Regions from separate parts of the Homo sapiens genome. Here region 2 is linked to region 1. A link means that fine-mapping ties the variant in region 1 to the expression of a gene that starts in the linked region. Tissue or cell type: uterus. Region 1 holds a variant in brackets; the other region holds the start of a gene. All regions are shown on one strand. Distances are between the middles of the regions.

Region 1 (8,091 bases):
GCAAGAAGCAGCATGCATGTAGAAGTGTGGCTGGGCATAGTGGCTTACGCCTGAAATCCTAGGACTTTGGGAGGCCAAGGTGGGAGGATCACTAGAGGCCAGATGTTCGAGACCAGCCTGGCAACATAGTGAGATGAGATCCCATCTCTAAAAAAAAACAAAAGTAGTGTGTGAGTGTGTCTGTGAATGTACACAGGTAAGTGTGCATGGGTGTGAAAAGTGGGTGAGTGACTGAGGTATGTGGACCCTCCCCAGAGTTACACCTGGAAGGCTCCCGAAAAGGCCTGGCCGCTCACTCGCAGGAGTCGGTTTAGCTCCCTGAAGGGCAGCTGCCAGCCAGGCCGAGGATAAGGAGCAGGTTTAGCTGGCTGATGCTGGACCAAATTAAATGTTAAAACAACATCCAGGCCTGTGGACGTGTGCACTTAAAGCTGTGCCTGCTGCTCTGGATGATCTAGCTGATTCTTGGTGGCCACGTCTGATGTTTCTGCTGAGATTTAGACACCCTGTCCCTACCCCTGCCACCTCCCAGGGTGAAACACCCACCCGGGAGTTCAGGGCCCTGCCACCCAAGAACAGAAACCATGGGGTAAACCCCACCTCAAGGAGACGCCTCACCCTTGGAGGAGACGATGGCGCCCCGCACCTGTCATGACTGCCCCATGGCAGAGGTCCCCTCCCTAATCCAACCAGACCTCGGTTAAAAACTTCATAGCTGTATATCCTAGGACAAGCAGCTCATCCTTCCAGATCGCCATTGCCTCCCTTCCTGGGCTCCCTAAATGCTTTCATCAGATTGCTGCAAGAGGATGAAATGCTTGTAAAGACCTGACCTACAGCCGGGCGCAGTTGCTCACACCAGTAATCCCAACACTTCGGGAGGCAGAGGTGGGCAGAAGGCTTGAGCCTAGGAATTCAAAACCAGCCTGGATAATAAGGTGAAACCCCATCTCAAAAAAAAAATTAGCTGGGTGTGGTGGTGCATGCCTGTAGTCCCAGCTACTTGGGAGGCTGAGGTGGGAGGATGGCTTGAGCCTAGGAGGTCCAGGCTGCAGTGAGAGGTGATCTTGCCACTGCACTCCAGCCTGGTCAATGAGCAAGACCCTGTCTCAAAAAAAAAGAAAGAAAGACCTGCCCTGGGGCCAGCATTTAGTAACCCCTCAATATAAGTGAGCTATTAAGGAGGCTTGGATGTTATTATTAGCAACTAGAATATGAGACAGCCTGAGATTAAGCTCCCCACCCAGCCTAGTGGGATAAGGATCCAATCACAATTCTGTTGATAGTAAGAACAATAAACCAATGCCATATTTATTATCTGGATTGTGACCTGAAGTTCTTACCTTATTACAGGGACATAGACCTGAACTGGTGTGTGTTGCTGTCATTATAACTGTTGGCTCCTTGGCAGCAAGGACTGTGTTGTCTTTTAGTACCACTCTGTCCTCTACACTTAATACGGCACCTGGCACACAGTAGGTGCTTGATGTTGTTGAATGAAAGAGCGAAGACACCTGAATGGCCTGAAGGACAGAAAGACAGCAGTCAGTGTGTCCTGATGCCTGATAAACTTTGATCCTGCTTAACTGGGACTTACTGTTTCTATCACTGAAGCAGAGGGTGAAAGAAATATTTACCAAAAGGCTCCCAGTCCTGGTGGGTTTCTTGCAACTACAGATTGCCTTTTTAGACAGCATTTCTCCAGAGAGCAGCTGACCTCCTAGGTCGTGTTTCACAGGGATAGTGGGGTAGGGGGTGACAAGAAGTAAGCCTCCTCTCAAGGAATCAACACTTACTCTGCATGAGGCACTATGCTGGCGACTTTACATACCTCACCTTATTTAGTTCTCACAACAATTTATAGCTTTTATTTAGGTGCAGTCACCCCTGCCTGCCAGACCCATGTGCATATCTGATTGTTCCCCTACCCCATTTTGTCTGTGTTATCTTATGTAAAATGCAGATTCCCCCATCTTTCCTTTATCCCTTTTGTTTATGTGAAAACTGTGTGTTTCTCAATATCCCACCCTTTCTCCTTTAAATTTGGAGCCCCCAAAATCATCTTCAGAGAAAGACATAGACCTGTCTCCCAGGTGCGTCCTTAACTTTGGCAAATAAATCTCCAAAAATGATTGAGACTTGTCTCATCGTTTTCTCCGATTGACAAGCCAAACCATTCACATGTTACAAATGAGGAAACTGAGGCTCAGAGAGGTATATAGGTACCCAGTGTGGTACACAGATTTGTATAAAATGACCTAAATTCATCCTTCCTTGTATCCACGCCCTTTGCAAAATGGTTTTGCAGCTCTTCCCATCAAAAGGCAGAGGTGGTTTCCAAACTCTTGAGTCAGGTTGGTCTTGTGACTTGCTTTGGCCAACAGAATTGCTGGAAGTGATACCGTGCCAAATCTAAGACCCCAAACTGCCTTGCAGGTTTCTTCTCTCTCTCTCTCAGACCCCTGTCTCCATCAGGAGAACGGTCTGCTGGAGAATGAGAGACCAGTTGTTCCCATCACCCTAGATGATAGTCAGAGCTTCCTGCAGACCTGGCAGCTGACTGCAAAAATGCATGAGGGATGCCAGCCCACACCAGAACCATCCAACTGATGGTTCAGGCTAAATTGTCAACTCATAGAATCATGTTTTAAGCAACTAGGTTTTGGGACGATTTGTTACATAGCAGTAGCTAACTGATACACTCACAGTCACACAACTGTTAAAGGCTGAGTCAGGACTCAAGGCAGGAGTCGGGTTTGTGGGACTCCAGAATCCATGCTCTCAACCTCTGTATTTTGCTGCCTCCCAGAAGGAAAATGAGGATAACAGGGCTCTAGCTGCTAAAGAGCCCTTCTCTTGTGTCCCAACATTCAGCTACATCTTCTAGGGAACGTGCCTAATCCCTGGCTCTCTCCTGCCCTGGCACCTCCTTTCATCCCCTGAGCCGTGCTCTTTCATCTCCTACCCTTACAAGGGTCTGGGTGGGGACAAAGCACTGGCTGCCACTTCAGGTTTCCCTGAGCCCCTACTTTGATCCGCTCCAACCCTGCTCGTTTTCAAGGTTTGTTCAGAATGCTGGCAAGAGCCAATGTTTCTACACGTACCTATCAGCAGCCATGATGAAAA[C/T]CAGCTGTGAGGTTTAAAAATAGCCCCCAAGGGCTGCCAAAAATGCCAGGTCCCTGACTCGGAGAGGAGAAGCCAATCCCAAGGTGCGGCCACCATCATCAGGGAAGAGTCATAGCCACCACATGCCCAGGAGTCTTCCATGCCAGTCCCACAGGACTTGCCACAGGAGCTCAGCTGAGCCCGAGTCCCTAGGAGCAAAAGCCCCCGGAGAAGCGGGGATGGAGTTCGAGACCAGCCTGGTCGACATGGTGAAACCCCATCTCTACTGAAACTACGAAAATGAGCTGAGTAGTCCCAGCTACTCAGGAGGCTGAGGCAGGAGAATTGCTTGAACCCGGGAGGCAGAGGTTGCAGTGAGCCGAGATCGTGCCACTGCACTCCAGCCTGGGCAACAGAGCGAGACTCTGTCTCAAAGAAGGAGGAGGAGGAGAAGGAGGAGGAGGAGGAGGAGGAAGAGGAGGAGGAGGAGGAGGGAGGGGAAAATAAGGCAGGGCCCAGAAAGCCTCCCAGGGGCCTCTTCCCCCTCCTGCTTCCCACACCTCCTGCTGCCCCTCCCTCCTCCCCCCTTCCATCATTCTCTCCCCTTCCCTCTTTTTTTATTGCGTCCGAAGGGAAGAGACTGGGCTGTGGAGGGAGACTGCCTAGATCCCCCTCGGGAATTCTGTGATCCTAGGCAAGTGACGTCACCCTTGAGCCTCAGTTTCCTCATCTGTCACACGGAGGTCTGGCTTGCTGGGTGTCCTAAGGACCTACTAGGACGATGAGTCGGTGAGAGCACGATGCCGTCATTTCTTCTTTGGAGAAGGATGGGGATGAGGAGAGTGCCCTCCTCTCTTCTCCCTCTTTCTCCCTCCTTCCTGCCCTCCATCCTCTTTCCGCTCCCACACGCCCCTGGCCTGGCCCCCATGTGACGGCCCCCAGGGCCAGGGATCTGCCAAGCTGAGTCTACCTGCAGTGCAGCCCTGTTGCCCTGGGGCGCCCTGGGCCTGGCTCGCTGAGGGAGCCCAGACCAGGCCCGCTGCACCACCCCATCAGCTCCCACATCAGCCCTGTGCTGGGTGTTTGGCTCACAGCTATATCCCAGTGCCTACAATGCTGCATGGCACCTAGTAGGTGCTTAACAAATATTTGCTGAGTGACCGCAGGAACCAGCAGTAATTGTTCCCATTGACAAATGAGAAACTGAGGCTCCAAGAAGTTGGCTAGCTTATAGCAGAGCACAGCCCTTAAAGCTTGAGGGGACCCACATAAACAAAAGGGATAAAGGAAGGATGGGGGAATCTGCATTTTACATAAGATAACACAGACAAAATGGGGTAGGGGAACAATCAGATATGCATTTGTGTTTGGCAGGCCGGTCCTACCCAAGGTCCCAGAGGCGGATTTGAACCCAGTTTTGCTGGTGAATGACACCCCATTTTCTCATCTCTTCTAGCCGGCTTTCCCCTTACAGGCCAAAGCCTGTCACACAGGCGCTGTGTGGCCTTAGGTGATTCACACACCCTCTCTGAGCCTTGGTTCCTGCATTTGTAAAACAGAAAACTGACCTAGCTGCACTCAGGCACAATTTCCCTGGGCTCATTTTTCCTCTGTTCTCAGCATCCAGCACAGGCTGTGGCGTGAGGTCCACACCAAATAAATCTCTGTTAGTTAATTAATGAAAAGGACAAGTTTACTTTAGAGTATAAAAGTCTGCTCCGAAGCTCTCCAGTTACCGTCTCTGGGAGCATATTCTTTCTCTCTTCCATTTCAAAGAAAGAGAAACTGCAAAGGCACAAGATACACTGGAGATGTGGGTTATGCAAGGAAGATGAGGGGACCACCCCAAGCAGCAGAGCACCCCACCCCACTCAGAAAGACCTTTTTCCTCCATCAAAAAATAGGTGAATGAATGGGAAATGCCAGTCTTTCCATTGAAATGCAATCTTGAGGGACGAGTATTTCACAGGCCATGGACCGGCCTTGGTGCTGACTTTGACGCACACCAGCTCCTGGTCCTGAGCGTGTCAGCGGGGAAATGCCCTGCTTCTCCAGCTTTGCAGGATGGTTGTTCACGGCTTCTAGGACAGCGCTGTTCCAGGCTCTGGGAGACCCCGATGAGCAGCCGAACCCTGTCTATCCCTGAGGGAGCGGATGTCATGTGGGGCATCCGGAAGGTTCTGAGCAATTCTGCTTGGAATCTCAGAGGTTCCAACAGAACAGCTGCAAGTTACCAGTTGACACGTTCAAGCACCTGGATGGGTGGTCAGTTTCTGTAGATCCCAGAGAACTTTCTGGAAAGGTGGCAGTGTGTGCCCCTAGGGCAAGAGTCAAAGGTGGTAGCCACCCAGGGAGCCCCAAGGAGAGGTTCTGGCGCTCTCAGGACATCCAGGCCACACCAGTCTTCCAGGCACCCCCCCCGCCCCACCTCCAGGCACACCAGCTCTGCCCAGGTTGCCCAACCTGTATGTGTCCGGGTCATGGCCATCGTCACCCACAGCGTCACAGGCGTCCTGGCCAGCACCTGCCTCCTGCTAAAACGCTAAAAACAGCTGCATTACCTTGCCGGCCTCCAGTCCCTGAGAACAAACTCACCTGGCTTAAATAGAGTGGCTGGAAGAGCACTTTCATTAGGGGCCGCACATTCTGACATAGGGCTCCTGGCTGCTCCCCAGGTTGGGGGCTGGGGGGTGTCACTTTTATAAACTTCCACAGACCCTTCTTGCCAAGCCTACTGGACAACAGAGGCTATGATGAATCCAGGCTGACCGGCAGGTCCTGGCACCACTCACCTCAGAGTCTAAGGCCAGGCTGGAGTGACCAGGCTGGAGTGGTCAGGCCCCGCCCACCTGAGCTGCAGAGGGGCAGAGGGGACAGGGCCGGCTGCATGGGGTGTGACCTGTGCAGTCGCAGAGGGACCCTCACACTCAGAAGGGCCGCCTGTTGGTTTAATGCTCTGCTGTTGTCGTCTTAAAAGTCTTCGTCGTTTTTGAACGTTTGGAGGGGGGGCCACATTTTTACTTTGCACTGAATGCCTCTGAGGGACTCATAAGTGGGCCCCATCCCCCCAGGAGTCCCAGAACTCATGAAGGGGCTTCAGAAATGAGCAGCAGCAGAACCACAGACATCCCCAGGCCGGGGCCACCCTCTCGAGTATCCCGCGCCCTGGCTGTTGGGCTGCACGGTCACGTTCCCATGGTTGTGCTAATAGGGGTTGGGAGGGACATGCGTACACACACAGCCATGCAGTCACATGTGCAATAGCTGGTCACCCCACGCCTGCACTTCCAGCACTGGGAGTGGCTGGGAGGCCTCACCATGCCCCCATCACACCTAAGATAATGAGACAGCAGGGAGGGCAGGAGGAGCTGAGGAGGGGGTGTCAGGGACAGAAAGAGAGCCCTTGCCTCCCCCATCTCCGAGGAAAGGAGAGATCCCTCCCTCGCCCTGCTGTCAATCTTCCAGGAACTCCCTGCAGGGCCCTGAGAGGTGTGCATCTTGTCCCCTTGAACTCCCGCTGCCACCCTGAGATAGCGTTTGTATCACACCCATTTTAAGGATAGCAAAACTGAGGCTCCAAGAGCCAAAGCTGCTGGCTGGAACCAAGGCGAGCAGACACAGGAGCCTCATGCCCCGTAGTGGCTCCTAAGGGAGGACCTGCCCCCTGCCCCTCCCCCTGCCCATTCCTCTGCCCACACTGGCTCATGGTCATGGGGGTCTTCCCTCCTCAACCAGCACGCATGCGCCTTCCTCATCATAGCCACAGTTGGAGGGCAGGTCACTGCCCAAGGGCCCTCAGTGTGCTCCTGAGCCCGGGCCCGCTTCCCAAACCGCTTGGCCAGCCTTGCCCTTTGGCCCCAAAGACCAGGCACCAGGAAGGGGCTGACTGGTGGGACAAGCAACATCCAAATCGGAACACCCTGGGGGATGCAGGAGTGGGAGCGGGGTCCTGGGGGAGGGACAGGTCATTTCTTGGCCTGGCTCGGGGCTCCCGTTGCAGCAGCGGGAGTCCTAGGAATGTTTCTCCACCTTGCCTTCCCTCAAGGTTCCCAATGGAAATTTGCCAGAGGTTCCTCATGGCAGCGCGTCTGGCAGGGGATCCGGGACCGTCTACCCAGGCTTCTTAGGGTGGAGCTCTCCCTTGAGTCGAGGGGACCACAGTCTGCAGAGTCTTTGCTGGGCAGGCAGGGCAGTGCGGGAGGAGGAGACAGGCAGGCCTGCTACTGCTGGCCCAGCTGCCGCCGTCTGAGCCTGGCCAAGCCCAGCTGCCCAGGCCTTATTTGGTAAGAGCCTGTGCTGGCCTGGCCGCTCCAGCTGCCAGCTGATGGGACACCCAGAGCCCCGCGCAGGCCTGTGCGCATGCCAGGCCTCTCACCCGGCCCCTTGGCCAGAGATGGCCGATTTGGAGGCGGGAGATCCCGGGGTCAGGCCAAGGCTGTGGCAGCTTCCATCAGATCCCAGCCCAGGGTGGGACAGGGATTCCCCGGCTTTTGACTATATAAGGCCGAGGAGAGGCAGCGCCGCTGAGCAGGCCTGCAGGCCCCGGAGATATCGTCTTAAGAGGGTGTTTGGCATTGGGAGCGAGGCCTTGGATTCCTGCAAAAACCTGGCAGGGAAATTGTTTGACAGCTTTGACAATGTGCTGAAGTCTCCCGAGGGGAACCCGCCCCCCCGGAGACGGCTGGCCAAGGGCATGTGACGCTTCAGCTGCCTCCAGGCTGAGAGTTCGGGCAGCCAGGCCAGACCTGTGGCCTGAGGAGAGGCCAGCCGTGGGCAGTGGTGCCCGGGAGAAGGCAGTGGGGGTGGCCCCAAGCTTGGCTTCCTGGTCTGTGTGGAGCGTGGAGCAGCACCCACCGCCCATGGGGTCCTCAGGCCTCAGGGAGGAAACAGTGGGGAGGAGTGCCCCCAGGGTGCCATCAGGGGAGCTGCCAGGCCCCGAGTCCTGCTGCTGGCCAAGTGCACTGAACAGACTTCATCTCTGTCCCC
Region 2 (8,091 bases), 54 kb after region 1:
GGCCTGCTATGAGGACAGGAGAGGACTTCTGAGGAGGCCAGAGCACCCAGCCCACATGCCTGTGCACTGTTTTAAGCAGTTAATGTTCCTGTTTTCCGGATGAGGATGCCACTGCCAAGACAGACCCAGCTGGTAAGGGGCAAAGTCAGGATTCGAACCCACCTCTGCAGGCCCCAGAGGCCAAGCACTGATGGGTATGGAGTCCCAGAGGTAGCTGTGTGGATCAGAGCGAGCCCAGACGCACGTGGGAAGGCCTTATCCCACTGTAAGCAGAAAAGAGCTGCAGGCACTGGAGGCACACACCCTCACCTCTGGGCAGCTGCTCCCGCCCAGTCCATGCCCCCAGGCGCCTGCTGTGGGCCTGGGGAATGGAGCCAAGGTTCTGGAAAACAAGGAACACCCTCTTCATGTGGCCTGAACCCCATAGGAAGAATCTCGGTGAAGGCATGAAGGCTACAGTGTCCCCAAACACCCTCTAAGACGACTCTAGACATCTACAAAACAGATTCCAGGACGAGACGGACAGGGCCGCCTGCTCCCACCACCCTACACGCTCCCTTCCCAGGAGGACAGAGGCACCCCGGCAGGAACCTGAGCTGCCCGGCCACTCGCACAGGCTAGAAGGGCCCCGGCCACCCTCCAGCACCCCTCAGCCAGCGGCTCCTCCCACTGCTACACTTGCACACATCCACCAATACACACGGAAGCCGGCAGGGAGCCCCCGAGTCACCCCAAGCGTTCCCAAAAAGTGGGCACAGCAACTTCTGCTGGGGCCTCTGACCCATTCACCTGGGAGCCAGGCCCCAGGGGACCCATTCACCTGGGAGCCAGGCTCAGCCGGGTTCCACAGGATCCTTGTCCACACTGCCCCAGTCAGGCAGGTTACTCCTCAAGCTGTGTCTCTCTCAATGGAATCTACGTGGTGCGCACATGCGTGAGCACACACACGTGATCAACTGGCATTAGGGATTTGGATTCAGAAAGTTCATGAAGTGCCAATGCCCTGAAAGGGGTGGTGGTCTCTGAGCTGCCTTCCCCTCCAACTCCAACCCCATCAATATGCCACGGCGCTAGGGCAGACAGCTTCCATCCATCATGGGGGTGGGGAGGCAGGCCGCAAGGCAGGACTCTTTGTATCCCTTAAGTGTGTGTGTCCCTCCCCAAGCAGCTGCCAGGACTTACTAGATGTTTTAAAAAAGGGCAGGGAGGTGGGAGGCGTTTTAGGATGGAGAAGAGTGGGCTGCGCTGCTTGTAAATGAGTCAGACTAGAAGCCCATAGGCCAGGCCACTCAGGCAGGTGGCCTCCACCCCAAACACATCGTATCTACAGCAACGTTCACAAACATCAGACCTTGGTAGCAATGACCTACTGCCACCACCTGCCCCAGCACTAGAACAGGTGAGAGGAGTGCCTGGGGAAGAACTCAGCCTGCCAGTCCCTAAGAGTCATCAGCAAACACTTCAAGAGGGCGTTACCTGCACCAGGCCCACCCTAGGCCCTCCATTCAGAGAACTCAGATGTGCTGTGACCACTCCCATTTTACGGGTGAGGAAACTGAGGCCACACACCTAGCGAAGGGAGCTGGGGTGTGTACCAAGGCAGGCAGGCTCCAAGGCTCACCATCCCCTAGGTGGTATGGCCTCTGCCAGGGATGGAGAAGTGCAATCTGCCTTCTCTTCACTCCCTTGGCTTAAACGCAATCAAATGTCTGAAAACTGTCATTTCCCCAGCCTTCCAGACCCAGGAAGCCCAAGGCCCTCTCCACTTCATCTCCACGGACTACCCACCCCAAGCCAGCCATGTCCACTCACCCGTAAGTCCGCTGGATCAAGGTGGGGTGCAGCTGCTGCACCCCAATGGCAAAGCCTAAAACGAGAGAACAATCAGGGACTTGGCCTTGCTGCACGAGCCACGTCTCAAGGGCTGCACACAGGGTGGCAGAATCCCACAAGCCACACACCTCTAGTCAAAAGGGATCATCCGCTTCCTCTCCCCTCCCAGGCCTCCCCCTTGTGAACCCCAAGGCACACCGCTGAAGTGTGGCAGTGAGTGACGCAGGTGTCAGCAGCCACTGGTGTCGGCACTCCCAACCTCCAGGCCCCATGGCCACTTCCTCCCTCCTGCGAGGACAGCTGGCAACTGGGGTGCAGTACCCTCCCTGCCCCCCGCCCCCTTCTTTGGGCCACACGCTGTGAGAAGGGGTCTAGATCCTCGAGGGGGGGATGGCTGCCCTGTGCCGGCTCTGCAGGCACATGATAGCCGACTGCCACTGCTGGGGCGAGGAGGGGGGGCCTCTTTCCACCCGACAGATACCGACACCCAATATAGAAACCGAGAAGAGCCAGGCAGGAAAACACAAGCTCTCACCCGTCTGGAGGCTCCGCGGCTTGGCGCCCAGATATGCCAGGTTCACGTTGGCCTTGCGGCCGTCGATGATGGGGTTCGGGTCTTTGCAAGCCCTCTCAGCTGCCGCCCGGTCGGCCATGGTCACCTGGTGGAGCAGAGACACATCAGGGGCTGCCGTGGGGGGAACCAGGGGCGAAAGGGGCAGACGGCTCCGCCCTGGCACCGGATGCTGCCACCCCTCTCTTCCCTTCCTCTGAGGGTGCCTGTGACCCAGGGTCCTTGAGCCAAAGCTCCTCTGAACCCTACCTGGGGCTCTCCCACAAAGATGCCTCCTGGATTCCAGCTCCTCCCGTCAAAGTTCAAGGCCTGGGAAATGTGGCCTTCAAGGACAAAAATAATCCCCTGCGGGGATAGGGCAAAAATGAACCCCGAAGGGAGCTTGGGGGGCCGCCTGGACTTGCCCACCAGTGAGGGCCGAGACTTTCCTCTGAGAAGGAGTTTGCGACGCTATGCTTGGAAGGTAAGCAGGAAAGTGTCTTCAAGACGTTTTTACTTAAGCTGATGTTTATTTGGGGCGGCTGAGAGGGCTGTTAAAAATATGGGGGAGGCCGAAGAGCTCCTAACACCCCGGGGTGGAGCCATTGCTCCTCACCCCCCGCTGCTCCAGGAAATCCCGAGTGCCCTCTGGCTCCAAAACCTCCCCACCAACTTAGGAGTCCTAATTGAACACAGCGGCTCTTCCTTTTAAACCGGGGGTGGGGGTGGGGGTGGGGGTGGGGGTGGGGGCCGGGGCCTGGGGTGGTGGGGGCGGGACCGGCAGGAGCGCGCCCGGGAGAGGCGGCAGGTGCGGGCGCCGGCTGGAGGCGCCTGGGGCGGGGGCGGCAGCGGGCCGTCTGGGCGTGTGCCCCGGAGTGGACTCGGCGCCCGGGCCGCGATAAGGTGTGCGGCGGGGTGCGGGCCCGGGCGCGGGGGCCACTTACGAAGCCGTAGCCGCGGGACTTGCCCGTCTGGCGGTCGGTGATGACCACGGCCTCCTCGATGTCGCCGAAGCCCTCGAAGTACTTCCTGAGCGAGGCGTCGGTAGTGTGGTACGGCAGGCCGCCCACGAAGATCTTGGTGAACGTGGTGTCCTTCTGCGAGCCGTGCATGGCGCCGGGGGCGGCCAGGGGCCGCGGGAAGCCCGCGCTCGGGGCGCACGGCGCGGGCTGCAGCAGCATGGGGGGCGCCCCGCCGCCTACGGACCCGGGCCGCGCGGGGCTGCGCTCATGGGGGGCGGCGGGGAGCGCGCGGGGCAGCGAGGGGCGCCCGTCCAGCCGCCAGGCCCGACCACTCCGGCGCCCGTCCCGCCGTGCGCGCCGACGTGCGCCGCGCTGCGCTCCCGACCGGCGCTGCGGGGACTCTGCGCCCCGGCACCGCCCCCGGGCTTTGTAGCCTGCCGCCCCCGCCAGCTCAGCCCCGCCCCCAGCCGGCCCCGCCCCGCCCCGGGCGCGCGGGGACCGCCGGGAAGCGTAGTTCTAACCCCGCCCAGCCGCACCCGGGCGCGCGGCGATTGGGGGGAGGGGGGAGGGGAGCGCACGCGGGCTGAGGGCGGATCCGGGCCTGGGGGCGCTGGGCGCGCCTTTCTCTCCTGGCTGCCCCCGCGGGCCCGGCCGGTTGCAGGCACTAAGCACAACCCTGAACTAGGGAGGCCAGGCCCCTTCCCTCGTGGAGCGCACCGTCTGGTGAATTAAACGTAAAAAACGTAAAAAAACGTAAACGGTTTTTAGCATCTTGTTAATTGAGTCGGTATTTAACCCAGGGCGACTTAGGGAAGAGCCACGTGCCATATTAAAAAAGGGAAATGATTTCTGTTTTATATGTAAGATTAGTTCATCCGACCGATATTTACTCTGGGCGCGAGGCTGCAGCGGAGCACAGATCATATTCCCTGGCCCCACGGAGCGTCCAGGACTGAGAATTCGGCTAGTAAACATACAGCATACGACCCCGGAGGGAGCTACACCACGGTGCCGCGATAGAAGCGGGTCCCGGGCGGTCTCAGAGGCCCCGCGGGAGATGAGGTGGGCAGAGGAAGCAGGTGTGGGCTCTTTCCAGCTCCACCCCGTTCTGGGCTGGTGTCAGGGACCCTTGGGGCGAGTAAGAGCAGACCCGGGTCCCTCATCCGGCCCCCAGCCATAGAAAGGCGGCGCATAGTGGGGCTCTGTGAGCTTCACACCAGGCAGGGCCAGCCACAGAATTTTCGGGGCCCAGTGCAAAATGCAAACGCGGGGCCCCTTATTCAAAAGCTAGGAATTTCAAGTTGGCAGCGGTTGAGCATGAAACTCAGCCCCGGGCTTTCCTGAGCGAAGGGAAGGGCCGTGTGACTGCACAGACCCCGGGATCCCGGACCTGCGGGTCACACCCTCCACCTCTGAAGCCGGGACTAGGGGCCTCAAGCCCGCCTCATCTCCAGCCCCCGCGGTTGGGACCTATGCAGCTGGGAAACAGCAGCTCTAATTGGGGTCACTCCCGGCCCCAGCCCTGCGGCCTCCTCTCAGCACAGGGCGACGCAGGTGGGGTCTGTGGGGACTGGGAGTGGCACTCCGTGGGCTGTGGGGGACCGCAAGGCCGGCGAGGAGTTCCCCTCGTTTCCTCCAGCACCGAGGAGTTCTCCGCGTTTCCTCCAGCCCTCTGCCCTGGCTGCCGGCGGGGAGGAGTCTGCCCGCCCCCTCCCCCACTCCACGGCCCACGCTCCACGCGGCAGCCTTGACCTCTGACCTCTCCCTCCCCCAGCTCCCGCTCTAGCCCTCTGCACAGTGGGGATGGGACCCCCGAGTCTTCCGGAAGCCTGGGCGTCCTTTCCTCCCTTCCCCCTTCGTTCCTCGTTCCTGGCGCTCCTGCCCCCGCTTGCGGCCCCCGTTGCCCTTCATCCCGCGTGGTTTCCTCTCCTTCCTTCGCGGAGTTTCCCACCTCCCCGGCCCTGTGTGTTCGCCTGCCTGGAGCCCCTCCCCTGCTATTTGGGCGCTGCGAGAACAGGGACCTGGGATGTTTTGCCCAAGCTGGAGGGCCTGGCAAGGAGAGGGCTCTGGGATATGTTTGTTGAGTGTATCCACGATGGAACAAGGTGGGGTGGGGGAAAGCTCTGGCCCAGCCGGAGGCCCTTCGAAGCGACTTTGAAAACTTTCATTTAAGTGTGACCTTCACTTGCCCCCTAGAGGCCGGGGGAGGCGGCCACTGCGCGGCCGCGTGCTTTTGCGCCAGCTGGATCCCTTCACCAGGCCTCGGTTTCCCCTTCAGTTTTTCCAAGGCTGTCCCCAGCCGTCGCGTTGCCTGGGCAGGCTGGAGCCGCGTCGGTGGCGTGGCCACGGGCTTCAGCCCGGAGGCGCCCGGGCTCCCGGCCTACAAGTCCCAGCGCCGCCCGGGCCCGCCTCGCCCGCGCCCCTCCCGGCACGACAGCCCCACAAAGGGGTGCGGCCGCTCGGCTGCTGCCGCGGGGGCCGGGCCCAGGCGGCAGGGCAGCCCCGGGGCCTCTGCCTGCCCGGAAGGGGGCGGGACAGGGCCGTGGAGGCTGGAGACGCGGTTGCCCAGGTGCGGGTCCAGTCGCACTCCTTCGCCCCCCGCCCCCGGGCCCCCTTGGGTATCTGGATCACCAATCCCTCCCCCCCTCCGGCGGCCCCATGTCTCCACGGGTCACCAGCTTCTGCCTGACAATCAGTCATTCACCCAAACACACACTTTTTTTTTTTTTTTTTTTGAGACAAGGTCTCTCCCTGTCGCTGGAGTGTAGCGATCATAGCTCATTGCAGCCTCGACCTCTCGGGCTCCAAGCCATCCTCCTACCTCAGCCTCCCAAGTAACTGGGATTACCGGTGCGTACTACGATGCCGGGATAATTTTATATTTTGTGTAGAGGCTGGTCTCGAACTCTTGGGATTAGGCAATCTTCCTGACTTGGCCTCCCAAATTGCTGGGATTACAGGCTGAGCCACTGCACCCAGCCTCAAACACACATTTATGTGCACCACTGCACTCCAGCCTGGGCGACAGAGCAAGACTCCGTCTCAAAAAAAAAAAAAAACTACAGTCTCATCAGCGCCACTACTTGACCTTGTTGTTGAACGCATTGATGAAGAAGACATTGCTTGTCTACATTGCTACATCACATATTTGTTTTTTAAATATTTTCATAGCCGTTTTTATTTGTTTTAATTAGAGATGGGGTCTCTCTATGTCGCCCAGGCTGATACAGAACTCCTGGGCTCAGTTGATCCTCTTGCCTCAGCCTCCTGAGTAGCTGGGACTTCAGGTGCATGCCAACACACCCAGCCTATATTTTAATGTGATTGTTTTCCTTTGCTAATCTAAGCATTTTATTTGTTATTATTATTTTTTATAAAGACAGGGTCTTGCTGTGTTGTCCGGGCTGGAGTGCAGTGGTGTGATCATAGCTCCCTGCAGTCTCAGCCTCCCGAGTAGCTGGAACCACAGGCATGCGCCCAGCTGATTTTTTAAATTTTTTTTTGTAGAGTCAAGGTCTCCCTTTATTGTCTAGGCTGGTCTCAAACTCCTAGCCTCAAGCAACCCTCCCACCTCCGCCTCCCAAAGCACCGGGATTACAAGTGTGAGCCACCGTGCCTGGCTGGTAAGCATTTTAAGTGTTTAATACTATTACCTTAGGTATCAGCTGACTGCCAAGGGTTCCATGGCCCACAAAGGGCCCCTGGAAAGGGAACACAGTTTTGTGAGACTAGGCTGGGAGCCAGGCTGGGCAGAGGTGACTTGGGTCCCTCAGGCCTCACTGGGGAGCGGGAGGGAGGACTGGCAACTGTGTGTGCTGGGTGAGAAAATGGAAATTGCAGGAGCTTGGAACGCAGAATTCCTGCTCAGTGTGAGGATGAGCCCAGCACTTTCTGTGTGTTATCTTAGTTCATCTCACAAAAGCCCTAGGAAGAGATGACTACGATGATGCCCATTATATAGCTGAGGAAACTGATGCTCAGAGAGGTCCTCTCCTGCCTCCCTCGCAAATGTGTGATGTGTGCAGGGCACAAATGCAGAACTGCCTGGCCTAGGCCTGCTCTCTGCTCCCAGCTGTGGCTCCAGCTGCCCTGCAGAGGAGGGAGAGTGAGTTTACCCTGATGAGGATGTGCAGAGAGGAGCAGGTGAGGCCGGCCACTGCGATCTGAAACAGCACAGCCCCATCCAGGCAGGGCTCTGGTTTGAGTCTTCAGGCCCCGCGCTCTTGGGCCTCCTCTTTTTGTTTGTCGTGTTGGTGTTTATATCAAGGCTCTTCGGGGACTCAGCTTTGGGCTGAGCTTGGTGCAGGTGGCCTGTACACCCCCAGCCTGCAGCCCAGCTCCTTTGAATCCATGGGAGCCCCAGGTTGCCATTTTCATCTGCCAGGTGCAGAGCAGTGAGCCTGGGAATCCCAGCACTTTGGGAGGCCGAAGCAGGTGGATCACCTAAGGTCAGGAGTTCGAGACCAGCCTGGCCGACATGGTGAAACCCCGTCTCCACTAAAAATACAAAATTAGCTGGGTGTGGTGGTGCGTGCCTGTAATCCCAGTTACTCGGGAGGCTGAGGCAGGAGAATCACTTGAACCTGGGAGGCAGAGGTTGTTGCAGTGAGCCGAGATTGCACCACTGCACTCCAGCCTGGGTGACAGAGTGAGACTCCATCTCAAAAAAAAAAAAAGTTTCCCCATACTACTGGGCACAGAGGCCAAAATGCACCAGCAGGCACTGGTACTGGGGAGAGGAAAGGT

The links. PIP is the estimated chance that this variant, and not a neighbour inherited with it, causes the effect.
Region 2: RBM38 starts here. The variant in region 1 is fine-mapped to the expression of RBM38 in uterus (GTEx, PIP above 0.99).

What each region holds. Positions count from the first base shown.
Region 1 is chr20:57,440,579-57,448,669 of GRCh38, reverse strand. No RefSeq gene overlaps it. Among named protein-coding and RNA genes, the nearest start is that of RBM38-AS1, 52 kb to the right of the region's middle. RefSeq lists enhancers at 6,622-7,481, 4,433-8,091. The variant C/T (reference allele first, on the strand shown) is at 3,127.
Region 2 is chr20:57,387,055-57,395,145 of GRCh38, reverse strand. It overlaps RBM38 (RNA binding motif protein 38), which reads right to left and starts at 3,750. Exons shown (of 4, transcript NM_017495.6): 1 at 3,328-3,750; 2 at 2,369-2,492; 3 at 1,813-1,867. The coding sequence starts at 3,564. RBM38-AS1 (RBM38 antisense RNA 1) reads left to right here and starts at 2,090. Exons shown (of 2, transcript NR_149006.1): 1 at 2,090-2,867. RefSeq lists enhancers at 2,088-2,277, 3,032-3,531, 3,532-4,033 and silencers at 3,128-3,317, 3,668-4,067, 5,678-6,057.